Homo sapiens: one gene and its partner. The protein of the gene in region 1 binds, or shares a complex with, the protein of each later gene. Each region holds a gene or a part of one and is shown in the gene's direction. Other genes may lie near its edges.

What was found.
Region 2: the proteins of VEGFB (region 1) and FLT1 are in contact, whole or in part, in a crystal structure (PDB 2XAC), measured with the Homo sapiens proteins. Residues at the interface, in NP_003368.1 of Homo sapiens: Ser37 (codon at 8,900), Trp38 (codon at 8,903), Ile39 (codon at 8,906), Tyr42 (codon at 8,915), Thr43 (codon at 8,918), Thr46 (codon at 8,927), Cys47 (codon at 8,930), Gln48 (codon at 8,933), Pro83 (codon at 9,038), Asp84 (codon at 9,041), Asp85 (codon at 9,044), Gly86 (codon at 9,047), Leu87 (codon at 9,050), Cys124 (codon at 9,405), Arg125 (codon at 9,408), Pro126 (codon at 10,270); in NP_002010.2 of Homo sapiens: Tyr139, Glu141, Pro143, Phe172, Pro173, Tyr199, Ile202, Gly203, Leu204, Asn219, Leu221, Arg224, Thr226.

The regions. Positions count from the first base shown.
Region 1 is NC_000011.10:64,226,919-64,238,224, forward strand, and holds the start of VEGFB (vascular endothelial growth factor B isoform VEGFB-186 precursor), read left to right. Parts: upstream 1-7,665; 5' UTR 7,666-7,915; coding exon 7,916-7,975; intron 7,976-8,539; coding exon 8,540-8,582; intron 8,583-8,894; coding exon 8,895-9,091; intron 9,092-9,335; coding exon 9,336-9,409; intron 9,410-10,268; coding exon 10,269-10,304; intron 10,305-10,501; coding exon 10,502-10,715; coding exon of another isoform or gene 10,716-10,737; intron 10,738-11,306. Other genes in the region: uridine diphosphate glucose pyrophosphatase NUDT22, read left to right, coding at 1-214, 483-575, 650-748, 2,329-2,426, 2,560-2,653, 2,932-3,072; DNAJC4 (dnaJ homolog subfamily C member 4), read left to right, coding at 3,937-4,022, 4,953-5,046, 5,512-5,696, 5,783-5,947, 6,976-7,195. UniProt on the Homo sapiens protein: Growth factor for endothelial cells. VEGF-B167 binds heparin and neuropilin-1 whereas the binding to neuropilin-1 of VEGF-B186 is regulated by proteolysis.
Region 2 is NC_000013.11:28,312,382-28,327,484, reverse strand, and holds part of FLT1 (vascular endothelial growth factor receptor 1 isoform 1 precursor), read left to right. Parts: coding exon 1-23; intron 24-4,538; coding exon 4,539-4,695; intron 4,696-5,125; coding exon 5,126-5,223; intron 5,224-5,899; coding exon 5,900-6,022; intron 6,023-7,950; coding exon 7,951-8,062; intron 8,063-8,566; exon of another isoform or gene 8,567-8,956; intron 8,957-9,887; coding exon 9,888-9,987; intron 9,988-13,704; exon of another isoform or gene 13,705-13,878; intron 13,879-14,637; exon of another isoform or gene 14,638-14,724; intron 14,725-15,103. UniProt on the Homo sapiens protein: Tyrosine-protein kinase that acts as a cell-surface receptor for VEGFA, VEGFB and PGF, and plays an essential role in the development of embryonic vasculature, the regulation of angiogenesis, cell survival, cell migration, macrophage function, chemotaxis, and cancer cell invasion.

The DNA.
Region 1 (11,306 bases):
CTTCCTGGGCACCAACTGGTCCAGCTCAGCTGCCTGGCTGCGACAGCAGGGTGCCACCGACTGGGGTGACACGCAGGCCTATCTGGCGGACCCACTGGGGGTGGGCGCTGCACTAGCCACAGCCGATGACTTCCTTGTCTTCCTGCGCCGCTCCCGGCAGGTGGCTGAGGCCCCTGGGCTGGTGGACGTACCTGGTGGGCACCCTGAGCCTCAGGTGAGATTCCAGGCTGGGCACAAAGACCCAGACAGCTCAAGGGAGCTGCAGCTCTCCACCCTCCCAATCCTCCCAGCTTTGGTTTCCTCATTCCTTAAAGGGAAAATTGGCCTGGTATTTCTCTGGAAGTTTGCTCAGGGCAGTCCACCTGCCTCCCCACTGACCCCTGCCCCAGTCCTGTGAGAAACTAGAAAACACGGGAGGAAAGATTGGGCACAGGAAGAAGATGCCCTACTCCACCCCTGCCCCCTGTGTATCTCCTTTGAAGCTGGACCTCTGGTTGTCTGTCAGGGAAAGGACACCAGACTCAGGATCACTAACTCTCTTACACTGTGCCACATCAGACCCTCAAGGCCAGCAGGTATAGGCTTGCTGGTCCTGAGATGGGGCAGGGGGAAGAGGTGGGGAGCAGGGGCTGAGCCTGACCTCTCACAGGCCCTGTGCCCTGGTGGCAGCCCCCAGCACCAGGACCTCGCTGGGCAGCTGGTGGTACATGAACTCTTTTCCAGTGTCCTTCAGGAGATCTGTGATGAGGTGAGTGAGGTTGACCTGGACAGGGTGGTAGACATGAAGGGAGGGGGTAGGACTTGCCAGAATTCTACAGGTCTGGGCTGGCAGGAGGCCTGCAGGCATCTGGCCAGCAATGAGGGAAGAAGTTGGCTTTGCAGCTATACATACTTGGAGTGGAATTCTAGCCCTCAGTACCCTCTGCCTTGGATTCTTCTTCTTTTCTTTTTTCTTTCTTTTTTTTTTTTTAGACAGAGTCTCGCTCTGTTGCCCAGGCTGGAATGCAGTGGCACGATCTCTGCTCACTGCAAGCTCCACCTCCCGGGTTCACGCCATTCTCCTACCTCAGCCTCCTGAGTAGCTGGGACTACAGGCATCCGCCACCATGCCTGGCTAATTTTTTTTGTATTTTTAGTAGAGATGGGGTTTCACCTTGTTAGCCAGGATGGTCTTGATCTCCTGACCTCGTGATCTGCCTGCCTCAGCCTCCAAAAGTGCTGGGATTACAGGTGTGAGCCACTGCACCAGGCCGGATTCTTCTTCTTTTTTTTTTTTTTCTTTTTGAGACAGAGTCTTGCTCTGTTGCCCAGGCTAGTGCAGTGGTGGCATATCGGCTCACTGCAACCTTCGCCTCCTGGGTTCAAGTGATTCTCATGCCTTGCCCCGCCAAGGATTCTTCTTTTCAATGGAAACAATGATAAATATCTTGCCTACTCCCCAAGTCTGTTGAAAAAGGAGTAAGTGGCCGGGCGCCGTGGCTCATGCCTGTAATCCCAGCACTTTGGGAGGCTGAGGTGGGCAGATCACAAGGTCAGGAGATCAAGACCATCCTGGCTAACACGGTGAAACCCTGACTTTACTAAAAATACCAAAAGTTAGCCGGGCGTGGTGGCGGGCACCTGTAGTCCCAGCTACTCAGGAGGCTGAGGCAGGAGAATGGCGTGAACCCGGGAGGCGGAGGTTGCAGTGAGCCGAAATCGCGCCACTGCACTTCAGCCTGGGCGACAAAGCGAGACTCCGTCTCAAAAAAAAGAAAAAGGAGTAAGTGTGGCAGGGTGTGGTGGCTCACACCTGTAATCCCAGCACTTTGGGAGGCCAAGGCCAGCGGATCACCTGAGGTCAGGAGTTCGAGACCAGCCTGGCCAACATGGAGAAACCCCATCTCTACTAAAAATACAAAAAATTAGCCAGGCGTTGTGGCGTGCACCTGTAATCCCAGCTACTCAGGAGGCTGAGGCAGGAGAATCACTTTAACCTGGGAGGCAGAGGTTGCAGTGAGCTGAGATCGTGCCACTGTACTCCAGCCTGGGCGACAGAGCGAGACTCCATCTCAAAAAAAGAAAAAAAGAAAAAGGAGTAAGTGGGAGTCCCAGTCACTAAATTGACTTCTCTTGGGTGACCTTGGGCAACGTGTTCAATCTCTCTGGTTTTGGTGTACCTGTAAAACAAACATGCCCATCATCTGACATTCTGTAATGCTGGGTCCTTGATCTACAAGCTATAAAATGCTGTACACAGGTAACAGGCGGTTTTTCATTGAGACGGGCAGGGATGTGGGCAGTGGCATTGATAGGTGGGACCTCCCCCCACCCCACCCTCCACCGCAGGTGAACCTGCCGCTGCTCACCCTGAGCCAGCCCCTGCTGTTGGGCATCGCCCGAAATGAGACCAGTGCTGGCCGAGCCAGTGCCGAGTTCTATGTCCAGTGAGTAGGCTCGGGTACATGATCCTGGGTCTTGGGAAGGTGGGTGGTGAGGAGTGGGCTGAGGCAGCTGTGGCTCCACAGGTACCCCGCAGGGGCTGGTCACCCACTAAGCCACCCTTGTGTTCTTGTCCAGGTGCAGCCTGACTTCTGAGCAGGTGAGGAAGCACTACCTGAGTGGGGGACCCGAGGCCCACGAGTCTACAGGAATCTTCTTTGTGGAGACACAGGTGCAGAGTGACAAACCATCTTGCTTGGAGGCCAGGGCTGGGGCCTGCAGAGGCCTGGCAATGCATATCTTGTAGGGGAGGTGTTGGCTGGGTCACAATTCCCTCCAGAGTCACAAGATTTGCCCTCAGTGCAAGGGAAAGGTCCAGGGACATGTTCAGCCCCTTAACATGCCTCCCTAAGGACAGTGCAGAGGTCTCTGAGGCTCAGGAATTCTGGGCACAGCCCTGGCAGGAGAAGTGGCAAGCTTGAATGCCTGGGTCTCGTTGTCTCCCCACAGAACGTGCAGAGATTGCTCGAGACGGAGATGTGGGCTGAACTCTGCCCCTCGGCCAAAGGCGCCATCATCCTCTACAACCGGGTTCAGGGAAGTCCCACTGGAGCGGCCCTAGGGTCCCCAGCCCTACTCCCGCCGCTCTGAAAATAATAAACGACTTTATTCTTGGATTCCGTTGGCATCTGCTATTTCTGTAACAGAGAGGAGCAATGGGCCCTGAGTGTGTAAGGCAGGACAAGTGACTTGGGAAAAAAAAAAAAAAAAACCCGCCCAGCCTGTGTCCCCCTCTGCAAGCAGGGGATAAGAACTGTGCCTCCCTTTCTTTGCTGGCTCCAGAGAGGCTCCGGGGCGGAAGCAGCTCCGTAAGATATACCTCGCTGCAGAGGGGAGCAACAGCGGAACGGAGACACGGTGGCCGGGCCGAAAACGTCACAAAGCCGCAGAGAGCGGGCTCTGTCCCGCCCGCTCCCCAGGTGGGCGCCCGCGCCTGTCCAGCGAGTCCGCAGGCTGGGGGACCGGAGGCACCAAAGGCCAATAGACATGTAGGGGCGGGGTCTCCACCGATTTTTTTTTTTTTCCTGACAGGTGGACGTGGTCTTGGCATCCACGCCAATGAGAATGTGAGGGCGGGGCCTGAATAGACGCAGGAAATGGCGACGGCCGCGGGTCTGTGAGCAGCGGGGGCGGGGCCTGGTTGTGGCCCCTCCTTCTCCCGTCCCCAAGTTCCCTGGGTGGGAACGGGGTCTTGGGGTCCCTGGCTGGGTGGCCAGACCCCGAAGCCAGCGCTGGGAAGGGCTGCGGATGCCCGGGTCAGAGGAAGGGGCAGGTCCAAGGACACGCGGGTCTGGTCCTGGGCAAGAACCGCCCCCTCTCCGGGCCTGCTTCAGTCTTCCTTTGCAGAACAACGGGCCAGGCCCCTTCCCTCTGCCCCCGGGTGCTTGAAGTCTAGCCCCATCCTGGTCCAATGCGCTCTTGGTAGCCTCCTTTCCCAGCTGCCCGCCCGCCGCCATGCCGCCCTTACTGCCCCTGCGCCTGTGCCGGCTGTGGCCCCGCAACCCTCCCTCCCGGCTCCTCGGAGCGGCCGCCGGGCAGCGGTGAGTTGGGCGCGGGGGGCCGGCCCGGTTGTTCAATGGGTTTCTGTTTGCCCTACGTGCTGAGTTAGTTGTGGTCTCTACTCCGTGTCAGGAGGCTCCCAGGTTTGTCTCAGGTAACCCTCGCCTTCCCTGCTGAGGATCAGAGATAGAGAAGACCCCCAAGGTCATACACCGATTTAAGCGGCAGAGGAGGAAGTTTGAGTCCAGGTCAAACCCAACGCTCTTACCACAGCTCTAGTGGTTTCCAAGCATCGCTGTATCACTGTGCATAACCCTCTGTGGGGGGTGGGAGATGGGGAGGTGTCGGGTACAAAATCCAGATTCCTGGGCTCTGCTCTGGAGATTCTGAACTGGAGGAATCAATTGGGTGGGGGTCAGGAATCAGTTTCTTTCTCTTTTTCCTTTTTTTTTTTTTTTTTTGAGATGGAGTTTCGCTCGTTGCCCAGGCTGGAGTGCAATGGAGCAATCTCGGCTCACCACAACCTCCGCCTCCCGGGTTCAAGCGATTCTCCTGCCTCAGCCTCCCGAGTAGCTGGGATTACGGGCATGCACCACCACGCCCGGCTAATTTTGTATTTTTAGGAGAGACAGGGTTTCTCCATGTTAGTCAGGCTGGTCTTGAACTCCCGACCTCAGGTGATCCGCCCTCCTCGGCCTCCCAAAATGCTGGATTACAGGCGTGAGCCACCGCGCCTGTCCAGGAATCAGTTTTTTCCAACAAGTTTTTGGACTCCACTTTGAGAAATCCTGACCTGCACTATGCCTGAAACACTCCAAAGGGGGTGCTGATCTGGAGACAGATCTGTCCTGGGACCTGTTTCAGCCCTGTCAGCTCCTGGTGGCTGAGTTGAAGGGTGTGGCCCAGAAGGCAGGGCAGAGCTAGCTTCTGGGTTCCTTCAGCCCCTGCAAGGTTTGGGACTCTGTCCACAGGTCCAGACCCAGTACTTATTATGAACTGTTGGGGGTGCATCCTGGTGCCAGCACTGAGGAAGTTAAACGAGCTTTCTTCTCCAAGTCCAAAGAGGTACCCGTACCCCTGAGGTGGGGAGGGGGAGCAGGAACTTTGAGCCAGTGGGGGTGTGCTTCAAATTCCCAGGAGTAGACCAGCATCTCTGGCGGGTGCCACATTTTTTCAGCCCTCATAGGGAGTGGCAGGTGCTCAATGGTAGGGGAAAGGCTGTGGGCAGGAGCCAGGGGTCCTGTCTGATGGGCTGGGCTTGGTTTTCTTGACCTGCCTGCCTGCTCTTGAGAAACCTGGACCAGGGCATATGGTGAATGCAGGGGGCTGGCAGGTGGGGAGGGCTTGAACACAGGAGGAAGCAGGAGTCCATGCTCTCTGGCCTTCTGAGGAGTGGGCAGGCCTGAGTGAGGGTCACTGACCAGGCAGGGCCTCTGGGTATGACTGGAGCCCTGGTGGGTGGATGTCATCAGCATGGGTCCTGGGGAGGGACAGGCAAAGGGAGATAAGGGGAGTCCTGCCCCACCCCAGCTGCACCCAGACCGGGACCCTGGGAACCCAAGCCTGCACAGCCGCTTTGTGGAGCTGAGCGAGGCATACCGTGTGCTCAGCCGTGAGCAGAGCCGCCGCAGCTATGATGACCAGCTCCGCTCAGGTAGTCCCCCAAAGTCTCCACGAACCACAGTCCATGACAAGTCTGCCCACCAAACACACAGGTACAGTAATCCTGCCCTCAGCTTGCCCCACCCCCAGGTCTCTTGGGTAGTCTCATTTCCACAATGTCCCTTCCTCTGCCTCCCAGCAGCTCCTGGACACCCCCCAACGCACAGTACTGGTCCCAGTTTCACAGCGTGAGGCCACAGGGGCCCCAGTTGAGGCAGCAGCAACACAAACAAAACAAACAAGTGCTGGGGTACTGCCTCCTCCTCATGCTGGCGGGCATGGGCCTGCACTACATTGCCTTCAGGTGATGCCTGTTCTCCCCGGGGTGATGGGCAGAGGGCAGGAGGGTGGGTGAATTCCAGTGTGGTCAGCCAGTCCTCCACAGCACCTCGTGGCCCGTACTCTTGTGTCTCTCAAGCTAAGAGCTGCTTGAAGTTGGTCTCTGGAGCCTCTCCTTACTTATTAAAGGCAGCGCTGCACCAAGAGCTAACGTTGTCATTTACAGTTTTTCATATTTCGAATGTAAATCTTTCATGCTGGCTGCCAGGAAGGGATTGAGCCAAACAAAATCAAGCACAAGCAGCAAATGCAGCACAGCTCATTCATTTGGCAGTAGGCATCTCCCTGCCACTCTCACGCGTGCCACGGAGCTGATTCTCTTTATTCTCTTTTTTTCTTTTTTTTTTCTTTGAGATGGAGTCTCACTCTGTTGCCCAGGCTGCAGTGCAGTGGCGCAATCTCGGCTCACTGCAACCCCACCTCTGCCTCCCAGGTTCAAGCAATTCTTCTGTCTCAGCCTCCCGAGTAGCTGGGACTACAGGCGTCCACCACCACACCCGGCTAGTTGTTTTGTATTTTTAGTAGAGATGGGGTTTCACCATATTGGCCAGGCTGGTCTCAAACTCCTGACCTCAGGTGATCCACCCGCCTCAGCCTCCCAAAGTACTGGGATTACAGGTGAGAGCTACCGCGCCTGGCCACAAAGCCGATTTTCTATAGCAGATACCTAAAGGCCAGTGCCCACTGCTAGCAGCCTGCCTAGTTCAGTGATGGAGTTAGACGCATACCCTTTCTAGTCTTCTGGGAGGAGCACCCCCATGTCCACAGCTGCTGTCACACCTCAAAGTGACCAGGGACTTCGGATGCCATTGGACCCTAGACAAGCCAGGGCCACTCTGAGCCCTCCCTATCTATCACAGGAAGGGTTAGACTGAGGTTCCTAACCCTGTGTAAGGGTAAAAAGCTGTGAGGCCCCTAGAGTGGGGTGGAAGGGGGCAGGACTTCAGGGACAGCAGGAATTGGATTCCCAGGGTTAATTGTGACCCATTGCAGGAAGGTGAAGCAGATGCACCTTAACTTCATGGATGAAAAGGATCGGATCATCACAGCCTTCTACAACGAAGCCCGGGCACGGGCCAGGTCTGTCCCTGCTCTATTCTGCTCCCTGCTCCCTGTCCAGGAACCACACTTCGGGATCCCTATCCCAACCACCCAGGTGCCCTCTCCTCCAGGGCCAACAGAGGCATCCTTCAGCAGGAGCGACAACGGCTAGGGCAGCGGCAGCCGCCACCATCCGAGCCAACCCAAGGCCCCGAGATCGTGCCCCGGGGCGCCGGCCCCTGAGGGGCTCACCTGGATGGGGCCTGCAGTGCGTTCCCGCTTTGCTTCCTTCCCTGGACGGCCCGCTCCCCGAAACGCGCGCAATAAAGTGATTCGCAGAGCTCGTGTCCGGCTCCCTCCTTAAGGCCCGACGCCCCCGGCCCCGGCCTCGCCAAGGGGCAGCGCCCCGCCCTCCGGGTAGTGGCGGCGGCGACTGGGGAGCCCAGCCTCCTGGGCGGTGCGTCCCCTTTCCCCTGCCGCGGCGGGAGGCGGGAGGGGGTGTGTGGAGGAGGCGGGCCCCGCCGACGGCCTCGCCCCCCCACCCCGCCGCCCCGCCCCCGCCCCACGGGCCGGTGGGGAGCGCGTGTCTGGGTCACATGAGCCGCCTGCCCGCCAGCCCGGGCCCAGCCCCCCGCCGCCCCCGCCGTCCCCGCCGCCGCTGCCCGCCGCCACCGGCCGCCCGCCCGCCCGGCTCCTCCGGCCGCCTCCGCTGCGCTGCGCTGCGCTGCCTGCACCCAGGGCTCGGGAGGGGGCCGCGGAGGAGTCGCCCCCCGCGCCCGGCCCCCGCCCGCCGCGCCCGGGCCCGCGCCATGGGGCTCTGGCTGTCGCCGCCCCCCGCGCCGCCGGGCTAGGGCGATGCGGGCGCCCCCGGCGGGCGGCCCCGGCGGGCACCATGAGCCCTCTGCTCCGCCGCCTGCTGCTCGCCGCACTCCTGCAGCTGGCCCCCGCCCAGGTACGTGCGGCCCGACAGCGCGCCCGCCCGCCCGCCGTGCCCTCTCTCAAGGTTGGCGGAAGTGAGGAGGCGACCCGCGGCCTCGGCCGAGGGGATCTGCGGGGTCCGGCCTTGGACGCGGGCGTCTCGGGGGCCCGGCGCGTGCATCCCCTGGGAGGTGCCCCTCCCCGCTGGCCCGCCAGCCCCAGTCTGGGGCCACTCCTCCGCCCCACCCCGTCCCCTGGGCACCGCCGGGGGCGGGGCTCCCTCGGTGCCTGCAGGACCTGCTTCGGTGGGCACTGTGCGCGCTCCTGATCTGCATGCAGCCCCCAAACATGCTCGGCTCCGCGGCCTGGAGATTTGGCGCGGCCACCAGAGCACCTGTTGCGTTTTGGGCCAGGGCAGGTCCCGGGTGGCCAGGAGAGGACAGGTAAAGCTAGAGCAGTGGCCGCAGGAACAGAGCAATCTGGAAAGATGTCAGAGAGGTGGTGAAGCCTACTGATGCAAGGGCAAAGCCCCAGGGACGGTGACAGGGCCACACCCTCCTAAAGTGTACCTTGGGTACAGGTCTTTTCTCTCCCACAGGCCCCTGTCTCCCAGCCTGATGCCCCTGGCCACCAGAGGAAAGGTAATACTTACAAAAACTCGGCACTAGCCAGCACTAAGAGGGTTTGTCATGGGCCCTGATTCCAGGTGTCCATCATCTTGTGTAACTCCCCTAGAAGATTCAAACTATTATTCTACCCATTTCACAGAGGAGGAAATTGAGGCAGTGGGGTTACTGGGATCTGGATAAACAGGGCAGGGGAAGACAGGTTGTGAGGGCAGAGTGGGGAGGGCTAGTGGAGGGTGGCTGTGACTTGGGGACTGGGGAGGACAGATGCTGGGAGCAGCTGCAGGAAAACCAGTGAGGACTTAACCCCTACCGGTCTGCTCCCAGTGGTGTCATGGATAGATGTGTATACTCGCGCTACCTGCCAGCCCCGGGAGGTGGTGGTGCCCTTGACTGTGGAGCTCATGGGCACCGTGGCCAAACAGCTGGTGCCCAGCTGCGTGACTGTGCAGCGCTGTGGTGGCTGCTGCCCTGACGATGGCCTGGAGTGTGTGCCCACTGGGCAGCACCAAGTCCGGATGCAGGTACTGGGCAGGTGGGGCAACGGGCAGGGGATGCAGGTACTGGGCAGGTGGGGCAGCGGGCAGGGTGGATGCTGGCTGGCTCTGGGGCTGGGGCAGCCTGGAGACTGATGCACAGGAGACAGGGTTGGGGGGAGGGCTGGTGGCCAGCCTCCCGGCTGTTGGGTGAGCTTTTCTCCCTTCAGTCTTAGAGCATCCCCTTTCTCTCTCTCCCTCACTGTCCCCCCTGTTCTTCTCCTGAGCACAGATCCTCATGATCCGGTACCCGAGCAGTCAGCTGGGGGAGATGTCCCTGGAAGAACACAGCCAGTGTGAATGCAGGTGCCAGCCAGGCCCAACTTCTGAGCTCGCAGAGGCCAGGCTTGGGGGGTGCTGGGTATGGTGGTCCACAGAACTGGGGACCAGGTTCCTAAGAGTAGAACCAAGGGGCCGGGCGTGGTAGCTCACGCCTGTAATCCCAGCACTTTGGGAGGCCGAGGCGGGCGGATCATGAGGTCAGGAGATCGAGACCATCCTGGCTAACATGGTAAAAACCTGTCTCTACTAAAAAAATACAAAAAATTAGCCGGGCGTGGTGGCGGGCACCTGTAGTCCCAGCTACTCCGGAGGCTGAGGCAGGAGAATGGCATGAACCTGGGAGGCGTAGCTTGCAGTGAGCCAAGATCGTGCCACTGCATTCCAGCCTGGGCGACAGAGCAAGACTCTGCCACAAAAAAAAAAAAAAAAAAAAAAAAAAAAGAGTAGAGCCAAGGGTAGGCCTTGGATCTGGGGCAACAAAGTAGGATGCTTGGGCCGGGGGTAGTGGCTCACACCTATAATCCCAGCACTTTGGGAGGCCCAGGCAGGCAGATCACCTGAGGTAAGGCGTTTGAGACCAGCCTGGCCAACATGGTGAAACCCCATCTCTACTAAAAAAAAATACAAAAATTAGCCGCGCATGGTGGCAGGTGCCTGTAATCCCAGCTACTTGGGAGGCTGAGACAAGAGAATAGCTTGAACCTGGGAGGCGGAGGTTGCAGTGAGCCGAGACCACGCCACTGCACTCCAGCCTGGGCAAGAAGAGGGAAACACAGTCTCAAAGAGAGAGAGAGAGAGAGAGAGAGAGAGAGAGAGAGAGTAGGATGCTGGGATTTCCTGATCTTCCTCTTGTTTGTCTGTGTCTGTCTATCTTACTTTTCAGACCTAAAAAAAAGGACAGTGCTGTGAAGCCAGACAGGTGAGTCTTTTGGACTCCAGCTGAGTAGGGGTATGGGGAGTACAAGTGAGTCCAGAAGCTGTTGCTCCTCTTTCTCCTCCCACCCGTCCCCCACTTTCCCTTTTCCTCTGCTCCCCAAGCCTGTGTTCTCTGCCCCGACCCCAGCTCTAGGGAAGACTCTTCCTTCCCACCCCAGACATGTCGCTTCTCCTCCCTAGGGCTGCCACTCCCCACCACCGTCCCCAGCCCCGTTCTGTTCCGGGCTGGGACTCTGCCCCCGGAGCACCCTCCCCAGCTGACATCACCCATCCCACTCCAGCCCCAGGCCCCTCTGCCCACGCTGCACCCAGCACCACCAGCGCCCTGACCCCCGGACCTGCCGCTGCCGCTGCCGACGCCGCAGCTTCCTCCGTTGCCAAGGGCGGGGCTTAGAGCTCAACCCAGACACCTGCAGGTGAGGCGTCTGTGGGGTGGTGTTTGTTTGGGAAGGCACCAAGGCCCTGTCCTGGAGCAGGTCCAGGGTGAGCCTGCCAGTAGGAGGAGGGCCAGGGAAGGGGAAACTGTTGAATGTGTTGAACAAATATTTACCAAACAGCTGCTGGCACCTGGAGCTGTATAAGCAAGTCCAACATTCTAACTCAGGAGTCAGATACAGGAGGGACAATGCCAGCAGAGGATGTCAAGGGCTGTGGTGAGGGGTACCTGGCCTCGTCTTTCAGAGGTCAGAGATCTCTTGGAGGAGGTGACATCTGCCCGGAGTAGAAATGTAGGACACAGCTTTTCCAGCTTGCAGTTCGGGCCTTCCCAGAAGCCCCTGTGGTAGACATCTGCCCTTACCTACGGGCTTCAAGAGGCCAGGGGACATAGTGGAACCCTTGTCCACCCTTACCTGATGTGTTTCTCACCATCCGTGTCCCGCAGTGAGGCCATGGGGTGAAATCATATGGGCAGGGCCAGTGGGGGCTCCCGAGGAGTGTCAGGAGGGGATGACCTTTGCAAAAGGTTCATCCTTCGCCCTGCAGC
Region 2 (15,103 bases), on another chromosome or scaffold:
GTGACTTATTTTTTCTCAACAAGGTAAGGATTTCAAAAGTTGGAGGTTTTTAAAGATAGCAATGAGTTTTCATTTAGTCTGTAACAACATAAAGCAAGAGAAACCTGTATTGTGTTGTTAATGATTAAACTTAAAACTCAATCTCTGCTTCTTCTCCTTTTTTCATGTTTTTTCCCCTGATAATCTGTTACACTCTAGTGTGGATAGCACAGAGAATCATTTGATCCCTGTGTGCGTATGCAGCCATAATTGGAGAGTAAATCTACTAGCCACTTATCTAAATATCTAACAATAACTTTCTCTCTTTCTCCCCCTATATATGTGTGCATGTGTACATACACGCAAACATACATACACAAGTCACTTATTTCTTTAAGGAAGATAATAGTTAATATAATTGTCTCCATTTATTAGGTTAGATTTTGACTAAGGCTAAATCAACTGAGTGACTTGACAATCAGCAGTAGACCAATGATGTGGCCAGGGCCAAAAATCATTATCTTTCTTTTCCACTGCCCTTTCCCCTACTTCCTGACACCCTCACTACCCATGTCATCCCTACATATACTCTGAACCAGCCTTATTAAATAAAAGCTGTGTAGTAAAAGGAACATGTGGACCCAAGACCTAAGGGCAAACAAGGTTTAAAAGAGATTATTGGGCCAGGCACGGTGGCTTACGCCTGTAATCCCAGAACTTTGGGGGCTGAGGCAGGTGGATCTTGTGAGGTCAGGAGTTCGAAACCAGCCTGGCCAGCATGGTGAAAACCCGTCTCTACTAAAAATACAAAAATTAGCCAGGCGTGGTGGCCCGCGCCTGTAATCCCAGCTACTAGGGAGGCTGAGGCAGGAGAATCGCTTGAGCCTGGGAGGCTGAGGTTGCAGTGAGCCGAGATCAAGCCACTACACTCCAGCCTGGGCAACAGAGTGAGACTCCGTCTCAAAAAAAAAAAAAAAAAAAAAAAGAGAGAGAGAGATTATTGAATGGAGGAGAAATAATTTACTAAAACTTTGCCAGTGTGACATATGGCACCAATACTGTGTCCTTCTCTGAGCTGAAGAAGTCCAGGGGACAGTGATTCAACATTATTAACCAGTAATCAGCAACACTGGTGATGAACCCATGTAGTGTGGTGGTTAAACATTGAGACTCTGGAATCAGACTTCCTGGATTCAAATCCTGTCTCTACTTCTCATGAAATCTGGGAATGCAAATTACTCAACCTGTCTGTTTCAGTTCCCTCGTTTATTAAATGAAGCTTATAATAGAATCCAGCTGATGGGATTGTTGAGAGAATAAAAATCTCTCAGTCAAACATTCAATAAATGTTAATCATCACTGTCACCACCACTGTCATCATCATCATCAACATCATTGACCTACTAAGATAGAAAAATTGGGTGAGTCCAACTTCGTACCACTGATCTACATGGTGGATAAAATGTCTGAAATCCAAGAATGATGCCCATCTTTATAATGTGGGCAAGAATCTTCACACACAAATAAGAACCACTGGACAGCTGGCCAATTTTCTCATCCCTCAAACTTTGATCTAATTAAAGACAGAGATGTTCTACCGGACCGGCAATATATGCAAGAACATCATTTTCCCCAGGTTTAAGTCAGGTCCTCTAATAATAAGAACCTTTTTTTTTTTTTTTTTTTTTTGAGACAGAGTTTCTCTCTCTGTCAGTCAGGCTGGAGTGCAGTGGTGTGATCTCAGCTCACTGCAACCTCCGTTTCCTGGGTTCAAGTGATCCTCCTGCCTCTACCCTCCCAAGTAGCTGGGATTACAGGAGCCCGCCACAACGCCCAGCTAATTTTTGAATATTTTGGTAGAGACGGAGTTTCACCATGTTGGCCAGGCTGGTCAAACTCCTGACCTCAGGTGATCCGCCTGCCTCGGCCTCACAAAGTGCTGGGATTACAGGTGTGAGCCACCGTGCCCGGCCTAATAATTAGAATCTTGAAACTGAAAGGGATCTTTGTGATCAGTTGGTTCACACTCGCAGGCTGCAGATGCGTTCAGAGAAGTCAAGTGATTCGCTTAAGGACACACACCTACCATGAGGTGAAGTCAGAAGGTGAAAGAACTCAGCTCTCTTGACTCCTCCTCCACTGCCTTTTCTGTGCACCACACTAAATGAGGTGAAAAAAGCATAAGAAAAAGTGGAAAGTGGTGCCTTGGGCTGAGGGCAGTACAAATTCCCCTTAGTACTGAAATTTTGGACTGGCTTCAGGAAGAGCTAAGCCAGCAGAATACCCTAGGGACCTGGGCAGGATGGAACGTTTGGGTTTGTGCGTCCTTTGTTTTGAAGAGTTTGCTTCCTTCTCTGGCTATATTTAATGATTTGCCTCCCTGTGCAACTTGGTGGAGCTTAGTGTTTTTGTGGAAAATCCATGGCTGTCTTTCATATTTGGAAGATAAAGGTAAAGGAAAGGCAAAACCAAAAGGCTAAATTGAAAATGGAATACTTCATTTTCCAAATAAATTAACTGGGATCCTTAAATATGGTTTGTAATAAATTCACTATATTCTGCCAGAGTCCCAAGAGTTCAGTAAATTACCTTTATTTAACAAAAGTGGTACTGATAAGCAAAGCTGAATATACAATTGATTGGGAGTCAGGAAGGGAGTGAGAGAGCCTGAGTTTTGGTCCTTGGAGACATGCCTAGGCTGTGACTTTTGGGTGCCGTGGGGAAGAAGGCTGTCCAGGGAGAGTTTTCACATGCAGAGCCCTGAGTGAGCCTGTGGAGCATTTTTCTCCCCATGCTATTGCCAGCGCTTTCTCTGATGCCTTCTGTCCCACAAAGGATCTTGTGAAAAATAAAATTCCAGTCCCCAACTGAACAGAATCCAATATAACTGCATTGTGGAAACACAATAACAAATAGTGAAAGTCTTTACCTGCCCTCAGGTGGGTTACCTGCAATGGCAGTGGGTATTCACTCTGAGGCCTGCCTCCCTCTGCAACCCCGGAAGGTCTCTTTTCAGGGGCTGGGAACCTTGGTGCCCTTTTGGCTTTTAGACTAGGTTAGGGCTGTCCCTCCTGAAGCTTTCTCCCAGTGCTCTGCTTGCTCCCACTGTGCCCTCTAGTGGAGGGATCACTCTTGCTTTGTGACATTTCTAGAAAAGCCCAGGAAGGATGGGGTACGCGGGTTAATCCTAGAACTGCCACACCATGCAAATGGATCAAGGGACACCACTGAACTCCAGTCCCTCTCTGCTTCTGCCTCAGTATTGCTGTCTAGCAGAATCTAGGCTACAAACATGGTCTTGTTATAAAGCCACTGAAAGTGCTAGGTTTTAGAGTGTCATAGTTACTAGATGAATTACAAAAGGCAATAAAAATCTTTTCTGGTTTCCCATGAACACCCAGAACTGACAACTCCTTTCCTATGAATCATAAAATAATAGTATAATAGAGCTTTTCAGAAGAGGATAATTAAACTCAGAAAAGTAAGGTGACTTGCCCAAGATCGCATGATTAATGGAAGAGCCAAATGAACCAGGGCTTGGATGTGCAGTCCAGGGTGAAAGGCCATTGCTACCCTTGTTAGGATCAAACTGTATCTTTGTTTAAATGGAAGAGAAAAAAAGCAATGTCCATGTTCCCTCCTTCCCCAAAGAAACCTGAGAAATTGGTAACTATAGCCTTCTCTTATAACTCCTCCTAGGGATTACAGAGTGAAGCACCAAGCACACTGAGGATCCTTTCCTCTCAGTGATGTCATCCTTCACAAGATGGCGTGTGGCATGGAAAAGTGGTTAAGGGCACAGATGTGGGCATCGACCAATCCTGGGTTCAAGCTTTGCTTTTTTTTTTTTTTTTGAGATGGAGTTTTGCTCTCGTTGGCCAGGCTAGAGTGCAATGGCGTGATCTCGGCTCACTGCAACCTCCACCTCCTGGGTTCAAGCAATTCTCCTGCCTCAGCCTCCTGAGTAGCTGGGATTACAGGCATGCACCACCATGCCCGGCTAATTTTGTATTTTCAGTAGAGACGGGGTTTCTCCATATTGGTCAGGCTGATCTCAAACTCCCGACCTCACGTGATTCACCTGGCTCGGCCTCCCAAAGTGCTGGGATTACAGGCGTGAGCCACTGTGCCCGGCCAGCTTTGCTATTTATTAGCTGCATGTGAATTTGATTACTTTACTTCTCTGAACCTGTTTCTCCATGTATAAATAAGAACTACTTCGTAAAATTGTTGGAAACACTAAACAAGAAATGTACCTAAAGCTTTTAATATACCAGCTCACACAGAGTAAGCATTCAGTAAATACCCACCACTCTTAATTTTTTTTTTTTATCTGATCTAAGATGCTGTCTAGAAGCCCAGGCAAGAGCACAATAGACTCTGCAACTCCAGAGGTAGTCAGGCTCCTGGACACCGTAGGGCCCCTGTGCTAGTTCACGATCCATTTTGAGAAGTGAAACGCTCTCATTTCTCATCAGGCGATTGCCAGTTGAGGGACTGGTTTCCCACTGCTGTGCTGGAGCTCCTTTTCACCTGGGTCCTTTTCGGTCTCTTCAAAGGATGCAGCACTACACATGGAGCCTAAGAAAGAAAAAATGGAGCCAGGCCTGGAACAAGGCAAGAAACCAAGACTAGATAGCGTCACCAGCAGCGAAAGCTTTGCGAGCTCCGGCTTTCAGGAAGATAAAAGTCTGAGTGATGTTGAGGAAGAGGAGGGTAGGTATTAATTCCTTCCTGTCCTACGCGCTGAGATATTTTTACAACATACTATGCATCTCTGAAATTTTTTTCTTATTTATCACTCTAATAAACATCCGTGGGAGACTCGAATGGTAATGTCCTGAGGAGATAAGATTTGAATTAAGATAATTTACAGAGTTACTAATTTTGACAGGGAACTGTACCGTTTTCTCCCCTCAGGGATTTTCATCTTAATGGATCATCCCCCTGCCCCCATGCTTGGATAAAGTGGGCTGGAGGCCTGGAAAAATCTCTGGTGTTCATGTTGAAACTCAAATACTCTTAAAAATGAACTCTGATCTACTTGTTGGTTTGTTTTATGTTTTGCTAACATTGTTCCAATAAACTGGGATTTGGTGGGATAACAAGAGCCATTACAAACAGTTACGGTTCTAATGCTTTCCAGATTCTGACGGTTTCTACAAGGAGCCCATCACTATGGAAGATCTGATTTCTTACAGTTTTCAAGTGGCCAGAGGCATGGAGTTCCTGTCTTCCAGAAAGGTCAGTCTTGCTGTTTACTGTTTTTCTTCTCTGCCAGGGCTGGACACACACCTTTGCTATAAATTCATTTTTCCTAGTATTTGCTGATACCTATGTTCTTAAATGTAGAACAAACACCACTGCAAGTGCCTTAATTTGCCTTGATATGAGGAGTTTTGAGAATGAGGAGTCATGGATACCAGTGGATAGAACTTAATTCTGGGGAAAACTCACAGGTTTCAGACTAGACAAACCTGGCATCGGCTCTCCACAGTATCCTCTGGCATATTTTCAAATCTGGCCCAAATCTCAGAAGACATGACTTCATAGGAGAGCTACTATTAATATAGCCATATAGGGCCCTCCCACAAAACTGCAGCTGGAGAAAGATCTCATCTTGGCAGCTCAGGATAAAAGACTGTGGGGAAAGTTTGCCCACTGGTAAATCTTAGATAACCAGCTTCGCTGATCAAATAGTAGCCCAGTGGATTCAGACCATTTCTTGACTTTGAGGGCTTGGGGACCTGTATTTGTAGAGAGGCTCTTCATGTTTATGGTAACTCTGTGTGCACCGAGAGGTGCTCCCTTCACAGCATGTGAAATGGATTCCCAAATTAAGATAATGACACTGACAGGTGTAGGAAATTAGTTGGTTAGGTTAAGGAAATGCATTGATTATGCAACTGTTTTATTATAGTGCATTCATCGGGACCTGGCAGCGAGAAACATTCTTTTATCTGAGAACAACGTGGTGAAGATTTGTGATTTTGGCCTTGCCCGGGATATTTATAAGAACCCCGATTATGTGAGAAAAGGAGATGTAAGTCAGTTTGATGTTTATTTGACTCATGTGTGTCCTATCACTTTTAAACCACAGACTTGGTAAATATTTACACTTCCTCAGCTGTAGTCCCTGAAAACCATCATTGGCTTTCTGTGAAGACAAACAGTCCAGATGAGCGGCATCCCAGAGAGCCCTTGTGTAAGGCTCAGAAAGGCCACTGTCTCCTGCTTCTGCTCTTCCCTAATGCCTGGCCTCCCACCTGTCCTTTGGGCAGCGCTGCGTGAGACTTGCTAACCTGAGAAGTGTTTGGTGGGGCCTGGGTGAGACCTTAGCATTACCTTCCTTTGAATCCTGAGGGAATTCCTTGTACCACTGAAAAGAACAGCCTGGACTCTTTCCCTCAAATAAACCCAGATGATTGATTCAGCAGGTGTATCTGTCTCAGGAAAGGGCGGGGAAGACCGTCAGCAGTAGCTGACTATGGAGGAGACTGTTTACCTCCCATGGCCTTCCATGCCTAGCATCTCCCCGCTGGCTCGTACTGGCTTCTCTTCCCTGCTTGTTTTTAGACATAGTGTTATTTTTCACTTTTGTGGATGACCTCCCATGTCCTCCCTTCTCCTTAACCCTCAGCCTATATACCCTGAGGGTTAAGCTTATGTCTGGGCGCCAATGAGTTACAGTAGTGGTTCCCAGCTTAATTGAACATACATATCACCTAGAAGGCTTGTTACGCTACAGTGTGCTGGCCTAACAAGCCTTCCACCCCCCAGAGTTTCTGAGTCAGTAACTCTTGGGTGGAGCCTGAGAATTTGCATTTCTAACCAGTTTCTAGACCAGGGGTGTCCAATCTTTTGGCTTTCCTGGGCCACATTGGAAGAAGAAGAATTATCTTGGGCCACACATAAAATACACTAACACTAACAATAGCTGATGAGCTAAAAAAAAAAAAAAATGCAAACAAATCTCATCATGTTTTAAGAAAGTTTACGAATTTGTGTCGGGCTGCATTCAAAGCTGTCCTGGGCCACATGTGGCCCGCGGGCCAGGAATTGGACATGTTTGTTCTAGAAGGTGCTGACACAGCATGTCCCAGGACCATACTTCGAGAGCCACTGCACCAGAATCTGTTGTATAGAAGGAAAACATATGACTTCACATTGATCCTTTGTAAAAATAAAAAAATAAAAATAAAGGAAAACAGACTTTCCTTGGGGCCCTGGTCTGGAGAGATGGCACCAACCTTCATGTTAGTCCTCCCCTCCTTTCTGTTCGTCTGTATCTGAGTCAGCCTCCCTGCCCCTCCCACTTCCTTTCTCCTTGTCTCTCCTTTATCCCATACCTCCCATCAATCCCCATCATCTAAAGTGGTGAGGCCTAACTCACTGGGATTCCTGCTATCTGAAAGAGAGGAAGATTTGTCTACATGTTTGAAAACTAACTGTATATTCTCTTTCAACACTGACTTCTTTCCTTCTTCTCTTCTTTCTGATGCTTTTGCACACTCTCCCTATTCAGTGACTTTGGAAATCTTGTCTTTTTGCATAGGAATGCTTTCAAAATCCTCCTTTGGAAAAATTTTTGGAAACCACCACCAGTTTTCAGGATATCTTCAAATTCAGATCACTCTTTTCCTTTTCCAAGCCCTGAGTGTGTCCCTGTGGAGTGCAGGCTTTCTTTGTGGGGGAGGATTTCTCACAGAGCTATGCAGATAAGGACATGCTGAACACATCAGAGGGGCTTACTGAACATATACTGCCTTCATGGGACTCAGTATAGCACTCTAGCTCCCTCTTTTAGCGTAACACTGCATACTATGGTGTTCTCTATGTTAGGAAACCAGAGCTGCTCTCGGAAATGATTTATAGGCCGTATGTTATCTGGGAGGTGACCCCATGGACACTCGGGTTGAATGTGCTTTGTTTTCATGCCCTTCTGCTCAAGGCCCCCTTGCCCTCTTCTAGACTCGACTTCCTCTGAAATGGATGGCTCCTGAATCTATCTTTGACAAAATCTACAGCACCAAGAGCGACGTGTGGTCTTACGGAGTATTGCTGTGGGAAATCTTCTCCTTAGGTAAATTTGGGAGAAGGAAGAAATCAAACAGCCCAGAAATAAATGTCTGCATCTTCTGCTGAATGTCCTTTGGTTAGACAGCCTTTAGATTAGAACCTACTGTAACAAAAAACTCTTAAAGTGTAATGGGCCCATGTAGACTCTCAGATGAGTAATGGCGTACGCATGTCTGCCCTCTACTGTAAAAGGGCTTTATATGATCATGAACAAGGTCAGAACAAGGTCATGTAAAAGGGCTTTATACGATCATGAACAAGGGTATAAAGTCTGAAGCAAAGTACTTTTTCTGTACTTTGCCCAATTCTGTCCTTTTCCAATTCCTCAACACCCACACCTCTAATGCCCTTACCGCTTCCCTCCCCGCGTCTCCCACCACCTCAGAATTTCTTCCTAGGAAAGGCCATAACAAGCTCAGCTGCCCCAGCGAGGAAGGTGTTGTTAGAAACAGGAGACCTTTCCAGTGCCTCTGATATGAACACATGATATGGCTCTGGACACTGGTTTATACAGGATAAGCAATAAACAACACTGGTTGTATTTATTCTGCTTGCAATAACATCCACTATGGGTGGCTGGAAGTCCTGTTCAAAGCACACAGATGCGTGCAGAGCCCACATCTGCTTGCAGACACACAGTGATGATCTGAGGCCTCTAAAACTCAAGTTCTCGCCAAGAGTCTTTTGGGCTTTGCCAAAAATTTGCCTTTCACAGCAAATAAAAGTCACCCAGTAACATCCCTGGTTTCCTGTAATGTGTGAAAATCATTCCCCTGCTTTCGATGACAGGCACCTGTTGCTTCCAGTCTTTGAAAGCAGCTTGGCGGCTGCAGTGGTCCTGCGATGACACGGTGCCAGCACTGCACGCCTCCCAGCTGCTTCCTACCAGCAGTAATCACTAGAAAATGCACACAAACAAATGCTGAGGTAGATGAGGCTGCAGGGCTAGAGCAAGAGTGCATTAGAAGGCCTTGCCACCCCCAGCCCTGGCAAGAATCCCCCCAAAAGGAAAGGTTGCAGGGGAATCCTGGGCAGTAAAGCTGGCAGAAGGCAAAGCCTAGGCCTCTCTGGCGCCCTTAGGTCTGCAGACTCCTGGCCACGGGCAGCCCCCACCCCATTCCACTCCATTCAGCCCAGCCCTGGAGCGCAAAGCCCCCCTTCCCTCAGGCCTGTCACAACTCCTAGAGCCCTGGTACTATAGGAAGGTTGCAAGAAAGTGAATTAAAGTCATTCCCACTCAAGTGTGAATGATTCCTATGTAGCCTATCCCAAGTCTATTGGCTTTTTAAAAAGAAGCCCAAGCCAAGTGTGGTGATGGTGAGCACCTGGAGTCCCAGCTGCTCGGGAGGCTGAGGTGGGAGGATTGCTTGAGCCCAGGAGTTCGAGGCTGCAGTGAGCTAAGATCATGCCACCACACTCCAGCCTGGTGACAGAGGGAGACCCGTCTCTTCAAAAAAAACAAAAGCTCACTAACCCAAAGGATGAGTCTCTAATGATGGGACTTCTTTAGTTACTTGTGGGGAGAAGGCAAGGACCCTTCAGACGACACCCCTTCCTCTGACCACACAGGCAGAAGTAGCCATAGGAATAGCCTGTGAGCACCAGGTGCCCCGCACCATGTGACCACCCAACCAAGCGGGTGTCCTTAGCAAGGATTTGCTGAGCTTCTCTGTGTGTTGTACGGTATGTTGAGATCTGTTGTAATCCCTGGGAATTTATTACTAAAACGTAGCTTTAAAGGGAGGAAAGAAACACTGAATTGTCCCCTCTTGGTCTTTTGTACCCTTAAGCCATAACAGGCCCTGTGTTTTCCACATTGTCTCCCGCAGGTGGGTCTCCATACCCAGGAGTACAAATGGATGAGGACTTTTGCAGTCGCCTGAGGGAAGGCATGAGGATGAGAGCTCCTGAGTACTCTACTCCTGAAATGTGAGCCCTTGGTGCCCTCTGCTCCCCATCTGACAGCTCGCTTTTCACCAGGGCATTCCTGAGAGGGGATGTTTTATGGATTCTTAGAGTCCCAGTCTTGGAAGATGCCAAGGTTCTTCTTTCCTTTAGAGATGCTCCCCTCAGCCCATCAGGCCCAGATATGCTGGGAGTGTTTTCTTGCAGTGGGGCACGTGGCCCTTGACCCATCCCTACCTATTTCCTGTCCTGACCACTGACATGACTTTTCAAGGGCTCTAGCTGGGAACTGAAGTTAGAAATTCAGTTTCTAGGTATGAATCCAGGCAAAACAAACAGACCACCCAGGAACTGAATGCAAGACCTTGGCCTCACTCACGGAGTGGGAGCCAAACAGGCCTAGCAGCCCCAGGGATGGAGGGCTAGACCTTGGTCTTGTGACCAGTCCTGTGTCTGCACAGAACACCCGTGAGGGGGTTGATGTGGTCTGCAGAACAGGTCTTGGAGAGGAAAAGGGGAACTTCCTGATGTCATGATTATGCTTCACAGAAGGCTTTGTGGGCAATACAACTTCTTTAGAATCCTTTGGGAGGAATAGGGGCCGGGCGCAGTGGCTCACATGTGTAATCCCAGCACTTTGGGAGGCAGAGGCGGGCGGATCACTTGAGGTCAGGAGTTCGAGACTAGCCTGGCCGACATGGTGAAACCCCGTCTCTACTAAAAATACAAAAGTTAGCCGGGCCTGGTGGCAGCTACTTGGGAGGCTGAGGCATGAGAATCACTTGAGCCTATGAAGCGGAGATTGCAGTGAGCCAAGATCACGCCACTGCACTCCAACCTGGGTGACAGAGTGAGATTATGTCTCAAAAAAAAAAAAAAAAAAGAACCTTTTAGGAATAGGCCCAGCAGCTGTCTGAAGCTGCCTGGTCAGATGGCTTTTCGGGTGTCCATGTGAGGCTTTCTCCACTGTGCAAATTGCACTTGCTTGCCTGTCTTGGACACTTTTTTTCCTGGGGCTTTGTGGATGTTTTGCACTTTGAGGCCTGAGCAGGAATGTGATGACACTTGCACTTTTGTGGAGCTGCTGACAAGGACTTGGGCCTCCCTGAGGCGGCACCACCTTTCCTGAACTGGCAGGGGCCCTCCCATTCCACCCACACAATGGGGTCCTGTCAGAAGCCCTGGCTGGCCTTTCAGAAGGAATCAGAGGGAATGCAGGAAGTGTGGGCTTGGCCAAAGGGCAAAGTCACTGTCTCTTTCCTTCATCATCTCGGGGTAAGGGTAGGTCAGACCCAGGATGGGGAACTGGACGAGGTGGACAGGAGACTCAGGCCCAACAGCAGGGCTGGGGAGCTCTGCCTGAGCGTAGGGAAGCGGGAGGGGACCTGTTCTTGTCACTGGTGCGTGGTGTCCTCATCAGAAAAGTACAGGGAGCTGAGGCAAGGCCTGTTTCTGAGAGCTGGGGATAGAGCTAGATGATTAACTTTATGATTTTCTAAGTGTTTTCCCACACATAGTCTCATTTGAAGTTCCCAGAGACCTTGAGGGGTGGTCAGGGCAGCTATTGTAATCTGAATTTAGCAAGTAATGAAACTGAGATGCCGAGAACTGAAGCAATGTGCCGTCTGTCAGCTGAGAAGCAAAGGAGACATTTAGAACCCAAGCCTCTGGACTGATGTCCCTAGACCACGGCTGATGAATTAGGAACAGACCCCACGTTCCTCAGTAGAAATGCTTCTCTGATATGGCCACTCATGCTTTGAATTAAATATGTCCTTCCAATCTTCATATAGTCTGAAAATCTCGAGAAAGTTCTCAATTACACTAATAGTTGTTATTATTAAATAACAATATTTTTACATCAAAATAAATGCAAAACAGTATGAAATTAAGTTTTATTTTTACTTCCATATAAATTCTAAATAGTATGAAATTAGTTTAGTTGGGTTTTTTTGTTTGTTTTTTTGAGATAGTGTCTCGCTCTGTTGTCCAGGCTAGAGTGCAGTGGCGTGATCTCAGCTCACTGCAACCTCCACCTCCTGAGTTCAAGTCATTCTTTTTCCTCAGCCTACTGAGTTGCTGGGACTACAGGCATGTGCCACCACGCCTGGCTAATTTTTATATTTTTTTGTAGAGATGGGGTTTCTCCATGTTGGCCAGGCTGGTCTCGAACTCCTGAGCTCAAGTGATCCACTGGCCTTGGCCTCCCAAAGTGTTGGGATTACAGGCGTGAGCCTCCATGCCTGGCCTGAAATTAGTTTTTATTATAACAGTATTGAATAGTACTGATTAAATAGTTATTTGGTGCTTATAAGTGCCACTATTTTAAGCATTAATTTATTTAATGCTCATAACAGTCCTATAAAGTAGGACTACCATGATCCCCATTTCACAGATGAGAAAACAGGCACCGCACATGTAAGTGATTTGCTCAAGCCTGCGTTGGTAATAAGCGAATTCAGCTTGAGTCCAGAGTCCACAGCACCATCCTACACTGCTGCAGAGTGTGTTTCCCATTCATACCCAGGCTGTGGTCGCAAATAACTCAGAGGTACAAAGTCACATCAGCTTTGGACCAAAAACTGCTTTGGACTTTCTCAAACCTTCAAGTCTTTACATAAACCTCGCTCAGGTAGCTCCCGTGCCTCAGGTGACCTAGAGAGAGTGGTATGGTTCCTTAATTCTGAGGAGGGAGAGATTTTAGAAATTTTAAAAAGTAAGAAGCTCTGTGAAATATTTCCTCAGAAGGCCAGACTTCAAACCTTCAGCCATTTTCTCCAGCATGTGAAAGCTGATGGAGTAATTTCCTTCTTGTTTGTTCTAACAGTAGGAAGGGCTGGGTGAGGACCAAGTGCAGCTTCTCAGAACTGGGATTCTGTGATCTGAACTTGGCCTAAAGCGGTGTGTATTTGGGAACTTGGGTGATAGCTTGGAAAGAAAACTTTCTGGGGGCCCCTCATCCCCAGCTTGGATGCAAGCTAATGTCTCATAACTTTACTAAACCCATTTACTTAGTGGTACAAAATCTTGTAACATTGAGTTGTTGGTTCCTGGCCCAGATACTGTTGAATCAGATGTCTTTCAATAAGGGAATAAGCAATGAATTTTTTTATTTTTTTTTTCTTTTCATTTGATGTTTGCTGAGATGATTTGCATTGGATTTTAGGCAAGAAGAGTGGAAACTAGAAATCGGAATCCAAGAGTCAAAAGTAACAAACAGCAAGTGGTTGTAGATGGTTCCGTTTACGAGTGTCAGCAGGGAAACTAGGGAGTGTCCTGCTCAGGATGGTGCATCTCCCAGACAGCAGCTTGATCCTGTGGGGAGACGATGGTGCAGGAGGAGACGAGCCCAGAGCCTCTGCCTGAAGGCCTCTCTTTGGAGCCCAGCCTCAACCTCCCAGGCTCAAGTGATCCTCCCGCCTCAGCCTCCTGTACTACAGGGACTACAGGCATGCATCACCATGCTTGACTAATTCTTGTATTTTTTTGTGGAGATAAAGTCTCACTATGTTGTCCAGGACGATCTTGAACTCCTGACCTCAAACGATTGTCCCACCATGGCCTCCCAAAGCATTGGGACTACAGGTGTGAGCCACCACACCCGGATTCTTCTTTTTTTTTTTTTTTTTTTTTACCTCCCTGTATTCTTACTGCCTTTGGCAGCCACCTCATATACTTTGAAACAAAATAGAAATATACTTAAGAGATATCTGGAGCCATTGGCGCCCCCTAAAGGCATACCTCTAAGAAGTGTCAGAGGGAGGATATGAACTAGGGTTTCTCAGGTTTTTTCCCCAGCAACCGCCATCTCCCAGCACAAGTAATGTCTGCAGTACAGCTGAAGAATTCACAGAAGGAGCAGAGTTATCTCTTCCCGGAGACCAGTCTGACTTCTTTTAGCAGATATTTATTGCCCTGTGGTAGGCGAGAGGTGTGGAAATGAGGCCCAGCCCACATAGTGCTTACAGCCCAATTCCCACCCAGAGCCAAATTCGGAGCCCATTCAGGTTTGAGTGTAAGTCAGAGTCCCTTCTCATCCAGACCATCTTCTGAGAGAAGAGTTAACATATAATAAACATCCCTTGAAGAGCACAAGGTTCAAGAAGAATCAATTCTTAATGCAGTGTGTGTATGGACCTCTGGCCTGTGTTTTTCAGAGAGGGCGGTAGGTACAGACCTCGATTCCGTGCAGACATGACCAAGAGAGGAGCCTGATACCTTTACATCTAAAATGTAAAGAAGAGGCCGGGCGCAGTGGCTCACGCCTGTAATCCCAGAACTTTGGGAGGCCGAGGCTGGTGAATCAATTGAGGCCAGGAGTTCGAGACCAGCCTGGAAAACATGATAAAACCCCATCTCTACTAAAAATACAAAAATTAACCAGGTGTGGTGGTGGGTGCCTGTGATCCCAGCTACTCAGGAGGCTAAGGCAGGAGGATCGCTTGAACCTGGGAGCCGGAGGTTGCAGTAAGCTGAGATCATGGCACTGCACTCCAGCCTGGATGACAGAGTGAGACTCTGCATCAAAATAAAAATAAAAATAAAAATAAAAATAAAAATAAAAATAAAATGTAAGAGAAGAATCACAGAGGAGTCTGTTGACATTGGAATCCCAGGACAAGATTTGACCTCTGTGCTATTAAGACAAATGTTTTCATTATCCAGGAGCCCAACCTGTGCTGTGTGCCTTGAGTGGTGGGAGGCCAGTTTGTAACAGCGGCTTTGCAGTGCTGGGGGAGAATGATCAGCTACACACAGGAACCTTGCTCACAGCCCCGGAAACTCCACACTGTGGGCTTCACCTTCTGGAAGTGACAAAGTCATGTACGCAGGACCTTCCCCACCAGTCTCCACTGCTGAGCCCATAAAGGGAGGTGTGAGGACTTGGAAATGCCACATGCTTTTTAAGAAGCCAGCTCAAACCAACCTTTGTTACAACTCGAGAATGAAATAAGTACTACAAACTATTCAGCCATTGATATTTATGGCTGTATGACTTTTTTTTTTTTTAACTTTAAGGACATCGTCCTACTTCTGTAAGTGTGGGGAGGAGTACTCCACTTCACATTGAACTGCAGTGAGCGGTGGGGTTTCCTTTCCGAATTGCTGTGTTTCATTCACAGAACTCAGACCTTCCATC